Linked DNA regions of Homo sapiens. The protein of the gene in region 2 purifies or fractionates together with the protein of the main gene of each other region. This does not show direct contact. Each region holds a gene or a part of one and is shown on either strand. Other genes may lie near its edges.

The links. Proteins that work in one complex are often made in the same cells at the same time.
Region 1: the proteins of KIR3DL3 (region 2) and UFSP2 purify together in Homo sapiens (affinity purification with mass spectrometry, with the first as the bait; one large-scale study listed by BioGRID). This does not show direct contact.

What each region holds. Positions count from the first base shown.
Region 1 is NC_000004.12:185,401,965-185,405,464, reverse strand, and holds part of UFSP2 (ufm1-specific protease 2), read left to right. Parts: intron 1-1,846; coding exon 1,847-1,971; intron 1,972-3,500. UniProt on the Homo sapiens protein: Thiol-dependent isopeptidase that specifically cleaves UFM1, a ubiquitin-like modifier protein, from conjugated proteins, such as CD274/PD-L1, CYB5R3, DDRGK1, MRE11, RPL26/uL24, TRIP4 and RPL26/uL24.
Region 2 is NC_000019.10:54,734,269-54,737,311, reverse strand, and holds the end of KIR3DL3 (killer cell immunoglobulin-like receptor 3DL3 precursor), read right to left. Parts: intron 2,060-3,043; coding exon 1,955-2,059; intron 1,493-1,954; coding exon 1,440-1,492; intron 1,342-1,439; coding exon 1,216-1,341; 3' UTR 680-1,215; downstream 1-679.

The sequences.
Region 1 (3,500 bases), on a different chromosome or scaffold from region 2:
TGGGCTGGCTTTGTGAGATTTTGCAATTACTTACCTCTGTGGATTTTATTTGTAAAATAAGAAGATTGGATTAGCTGATCTAAAGATGCTTAATTCTTTGAAGAACAAGACCTGTCCTGTGATGACAGAAGGCAAGGTGAGACTAGTGTGTAAGAAATGGAGGTAGAAGCTGGGCATAGTGGCTCACACCTGTAATCCTAGCACTTCGGGAGGCTGAGGCAGGAGGATAGCTTGCATCCAGGAATTCAAGACCAGCATGGGCCAGACCGCGTCTCTACCAAAAAAAAAAAAACACACAAATTAGCTGGCATGGTAGTGTGAGCCTATAGTGCCAGCTATTCAGGAGACTGAGGTGGGAGGATTGCTTGAGCCCAGGAGGCTGCAGTGAGCCAAGAGATCCACTGCTCTCCAGCCTGGGTTACAAAAGTGAGACACTGTCTCAAAAGAAAAAAAAAAAAAAAAGAAATGGAGGTAGGCTGATGTCAGCAAAATATCAGAAAGAACTTAATGAGTAGGCCGGGCCCAGTAGCTCACGCCTGACTCCTGATTGTATGAGCTTATGTTTTAAAATACATTTTCTAGCCAGGCACAGTGGCTCATGCCTGTAATCCAGCACTTTGGGAGGCTGAGGCGGGCGGATCACTTGAGGCCAAGAGTTCGAGACCAGCCTGGCCAACATGGCAAAACACTGTCTCTACTAAAAATACAAAATTTAGCTGGGTGTGGTGGCACACACCTGTAATCCCAACTACTTGGGATGCTGAAACAGGAGAATCGCTTGAGCTGTGAGGTGGAGGTTGCAGTGAGCCGGGATTGCCCACTGTACTCCAGCCTGGGTAGCAGAGCAAGACTCTGTCTCAAAAAAAAAGACTGGGCACAGTGGCTCACGCCTGTAATCCCAGCACTTTGGGAGGCCAAGGTGGGTCGATCACGAGGTCAGGAGATCGAGACCATCCTGGCTAACAGTGAAACCCCGTCTCTACTAAAAAAAAATACAAAAAATTCGCTGGGTGTGCTGGTGTGCGCCTGTAGTCTCAGCTACTCAGGAGGCTGAGGCAGGAGAATTGCTTGAACCTGGAAGGCAGAGGTTGCAGTGAGCCGAGGTCACGCTATCGCACTCCAGCCTGGGTGACGTGAGACTCTAGCTCAAAAAAAAAAAAAAAAAAAAAAACTTAATGAATGGAGTGCTATATCACTGGAGGTACTCAGAGGCAGCAGGACCATCTGCTGAGAGAGGCACTACAGCAGATTGTTACTCTGTTGGGAGGAGTTTATGGCCCTTTCTAAATCCATTTTAGGTAATTATATGGATGTGAATGTAGAATATAAATTGTATGTGATTATAGATATGATTGTATCTTTTGTGTTAAAGATGTAATTTTATCCTTTCAGAGTATATCTGACATTGTGTCTTTTATAGTGTAGGGTAGTCCATTTTAATGCTATTTTAGATCAGTTAATAAGCAAAGTAATGTTGTTTTTTTTTGTTTTTTTTTTTGAGAGTCTTGCTGTGTCGCCCAGGCTGGAGTGCGGTGGCATGATCTCGGCTCAGTGCAAGCTCCGTCTCCCAGGTTCATGCCATTCTCCTGCCTCAGCAGGAGCTGGGACTACAGGCGCCTGCCACCAAGCCCAGCTATTTTTTTTGTATTTTTTTAGTAGAGACAGGGTTTCACTGCATTAGCCAGGATGGTCTCCATCTCCTGACCTCGTGATCCACCCACCTCCCAAAGTGCTGGGATTACAGGTGTGAGCCACCACGCCCGGCCGTAATCTGTCTATTTAAATTGAATAGGCATTTGACATTTGTTTATGCCTTCATTCGTATTTCCTATTTTTTCTTCTATAGGGGGAGGAGTTTTGGCCCACACAATACTAGGAGTTGCATGGAATGAGATTACAGGGCAGATAAAGTTTCTGATTCTAGATCCACATTATACCGGTGCTGAAGACCTGCAAGTTATTTTGGAAAAGGTAAGTATCCATTTAACACAAATTGAGACAAAAGGCAAAGAAGCTAGAAATGAAGGATCACAAACTGGCTGGTAACAGAAAGACAATAAGCTGAGGGCAGAGATCTCCCTGTGTGGAGGCCTTCTGAGGCTGTTGTAAGTAGCCGTCTCTGTATAGGGAATGTGCAAGAACAAAGCACATTGCAAAAGACAAAATTTAGGTTTATAGAAACTTTCTCAGCTATTAAAATTAATAATAGGACACACACTCATAAATATATTCCTTTGGAGATTTTAGAGCTTTCATAAACAAATGTATCAAAGTTTATCAATGTCTTAAAATAGATGAGCAGAATATATAAACTTTTAAAATTTTAGAATTAACCAAAAGATAGCTAAGCAGTATGCTAGACATTATGGAGGCTTGACTAATTTTAATTCATTTACATATAACCTAATCTCATTCTATAAAGGGTTTGAAGTTGATACATATTTAAGAGTATTCTTACTTACAATAGCAGATAAAGGAGGTAAAAATTTGTTAATTCATAGGCAACTAATTCTCACATATGAAAACTCAGTACCAAGTCTTTAGGAGAAAGTATTGTAAAACATAATTAACTTGAATTTTAAGTAACATTTATATTCGCTGCCAAATACATTGAAATTGCAGAGAATACATAACCACCTTTTAAACTATAAACTAAAGATAAAATGTTTTAATATGTTAAAGAGTTTTAAGCCAGGCGTGGTGGCTCACACCTGTAATCCCAGCACTTTGGGAGGCTGAGGTGGGCAGATCACCTGAGATCAGGAATTCGAGACCAGCCTGGCCAACATGGTGAAACCCCATCTCTACTAAAAATGCAAAAATAAGCCAGGTGTGGTGGTGGGCGCCTATAATCTTGGCTATTTGGGAGGCTGAGGCAGGGGAATCACTTGAACCCGGGAGGCAGAGGTTGCAGTGAGCTGAGATGGCGCCATTGCACCCCAGCCTGGGCAACAGGAGTGAAATTCCAGCTCAAAAAAAAGTTTTTAATGTGTGTAGTCCAACTCTGTTATATCCTCAGTTTACTGAAGTCTTTTGTTTATGATAAGGGTATAAACACTAATAGGATAGAAATGTGTTGTTACAGTTTTAAGTGTTTTTTTTTCCTTTTCTCTTTCACAGCATTTGGAATTTGAAGTCTATAAAAGGTTTTTTGACTGGTGCATGTATCTTACTGAATATAGTAGCAATATTCTTGTTCTGTAGCAAGGTGTTCATTCCATTCAGTATTTATTAAAGTACCTAACAAGTGCCAGGCACTGTCCTAAGCACTAGTATTACACGAGGTTTTTCGGGAGCTAAAACCTTTAGGGTAGGACAGAGAAGGAGAGTGCAAAAAGGACTCTCGAGAAAAAAAAAATGGTATCTCAGGTGCTTCTACGAGGCTGGTGCTGTGGTGGCCCCTGCCTTGTAGAAACAGTGAAAGCCGCACTGCAGGTAGATCAGTGCGTCCAGAGCTAGGCGAAGAGGTGAGGCTGGAAGGACACACCAAGCTCAGTCAG
Region 2 (3,043 bases):
AATCGCTTGAACCTGGAAGGCGGAGGTTGCAGTGAGTTGAGATCACGCCACTGCACTCCAGCCTGGGTGAGAGAGTGAGACTGTCTCAAAAAAAAAAAAAAAATAGCATAGCAATTGCATAGAACCCATGCACATCCTCCTGTATACATGAAATCATCTCTTGATTACTTATAATTCCTGACACAGCCTACACGCCACTCAATTTGTGTCGATTCAACATAGTTTTTTGCTTTTTGAAACTTCGGGGATTTTTTTTCTCAAAATATTTTTGATTTATTGCTGATTCAATAAACATGTGTAAACCCCAGAGATATGGAGGAGTGACTGTCTATTTATAGTAGTATGAAAGATGATGTGTTGATACGTGTCCCTGTGGAGATGAGACTAACAAGGCCTATGACTCTACAAATGTTTCATCGTGGAATGACTCTGCCAGCTTTCCAGATCTGCAGAGAGTAAGAATATCACTTGTTCATCTGATTCACCATCCTTGGAACCTCCTATGTGCTGCATCTTTGGATGGAAATTGGAGTCTCAGAGACAATTCAGGCTCCACCATGCTTCCAGAAGCTCAGAGTCCAGGGCTGAGAACCCAGCGGAGAACAGATGGGGTTATGTGGACGTGGTAATGATAACACCGGAAGCCTTAGGCAAGAAAAGAGTCCCATTGAAGAAACCATGAGGGCAGACATGTTTACTTGAAGAATAGAAAACTACATTGAAATTATAAAAAAAATTTATAAGTTTTACTGCTGACAGAAGGCTGAAAGATACTCTGAGGAAAGGTGGAATAGCACGTATCTAAGTGCCGTGTTAAGAGGGAGCCTCTTATATGTTTGGAATTGTGAGTTCCTCAGTGTGATCGCAGCCTCAAGTAGACTAGGAAGTAAGCCAGTTAGGTTGGAGAGGTGGGCAGGGGTCAAGTGAAATGGAGAATTGTGGGCTAAGCAAGTGTGTTTTCTCTCCAGCAGGCAGTGGGGACCTTAGACATTTGTAAGCAAGAGAGAGGCATGTTCAGATTCGTGGTGTGAGGAAGAGCGATGCCCTAAGATGCAGACTCACGCCTTCAGAGTCCAGCTGCTGGTACATGGGAGCTGGCAACCCGGTTTTGAGACAGGGCTATTGTCTCCCTAGAAGATCCCATCAAGGCCTGACTGTGGTGCTAGTGGACAGAAGACAACTTTGGATCTGCGCTCAGCATTTGGAAGTTCCGTGTTACACGCTGGTATCTGTTGGGGGTGTCTTGGGCCTCTGAGAAGGGCGAGTGATTTTTCTCTGTGTGAAAACGCAGTGATTCAACTGTGCGTATGTCACCTCCTGAGGGTCTTGTTCATCAGAGTCCTGGAGGGAGGGAAATGCTGAGTGAGGGAGGGTGCTCACATTTTCCAGGACTCTTTGGGAATAAGACTAGCCACGAGGCTGGGCGGAGGAGCACCTACCTCCCTGTTCACTGTTCTGTTCCCTGCAGGCTCTTGGTCCATTACAACAGCATCTGTAGAAGACGGAAGTCGTCAAAACAGCTCGGAGGGCACTTCTGGGTCCTCATTTCATAAGCAGATACCAACATACAGGGGGAGGCCATAGGTGCCTGAGGTCCCTCAGTTGCCAACAGCAGACTCAGACATTCTATCTCTCTGAGCTCAAGGATCCATCCCATGTATAGCTCTGAGTTCCCATCCTATTGATTCTGTGTCCCACTTTCTGCCTGTCATGGAACCTTCTCCTGGATGTGAGTGGCTGCAGGGGATGTGAGGATACGGTTCAGAATCAGGCAATGGTCTGTGAGCTGAAGGCAGAGGCAGGGAGTCTGGTGCTCTCTCTAGAAAGTCCTGCCTCTGTGGCTCCTGCCTTGGGCCAGGGACCATCCAGTCTGTGAGGAACACACACCTGAGTGCTCCCATCCTGCTTCCCCACATGGCCCTGAGCTCTCTGGCTTCTGCTTCGTGAGACTTACTCTTTTTGTTGGCACACCAGCGATGAAGGAGAAAGAAGAGGAGGATAGCAAAGGGGATGATGACCACTGAGGTCCCAATCAGAACGTGCAGGTTTCTGGAGTTACCTGGAGGAAGACAAGACACCAATAAGAAGCTAATCATAGCAGTTCCTCTATATGAATTGTCTCACATTTCTTGATTGACAGGTAACCACATACAACGTCTCTTTAGGACAAGCACCCAGATGGCGGGAGACCTAGCTTCCTCCTGCTTTCTCAGTTGTAGTAACCATAGAACGTGCTGAGGATACAACTGCTTTAGTTTAGATGTTTGACCCCTTCAAACCTCACATTGAAATGTAACCCCCAGAGTGGGAGGTTGGGCCTCTTGGGAGTTGTTTGGGTCATGGAGGTGGATCCATCATGAACAGATCAATGCTGTTCCAAGGAGACGGGGTTAGCAAGTTCCCCCTCTATTAGTTCCTGGAGAACTGGTTGTTAAAAGAGCTTGGAAGCTCCATCGCTCCCCCTCCCCCTTGGTCCCTCTCTTGCCGTGTGATCTCTGTGGTCTCTGCACAGACAGACCCTCCTTCCCTTCTGCCAGAGTGGGAGCAGCCTGAGGCCGTCACAAGAAATAGATGCTGGTGCCATGCTTCCAGTACAGCCTGCAGAACTGTGAGGCAAACACATTTCTTGTCTTTAGAAGTTACCCAGGCTCAAGTGTTCCTTTAGAGCAACAAAAATGGACTAAGACAGCAACGTCCTGAGATCAGGAGGAACATCCCAGAACAGCCTGGGCTGTCTTCCTGTTCTTCCTGGAGGAGGACGTCATGCAGTGCTTTAGCTGAGTGCTTCCTGTGGCTCCAGGGTACAAAACCCAGGCTGGGCTGCTTTTTGATTTCCCCCAGATACACTGCATATGGGGTGACTCCACATGTCTCGAGCAGCTTTTCTGAGCCTTGAGGGACTGGCTCACATTGAAATGTAGGTTTCTGTTGTCACTCGCTGCTTATCTGTTAGTAATGAACCTGCCTGTGTAATGTGTTCTCTGTGTGTTCTGTCTCCCTGGAGTGACGGTGAGTGATAGGAATTGGTATAGGCCCAGGTGCA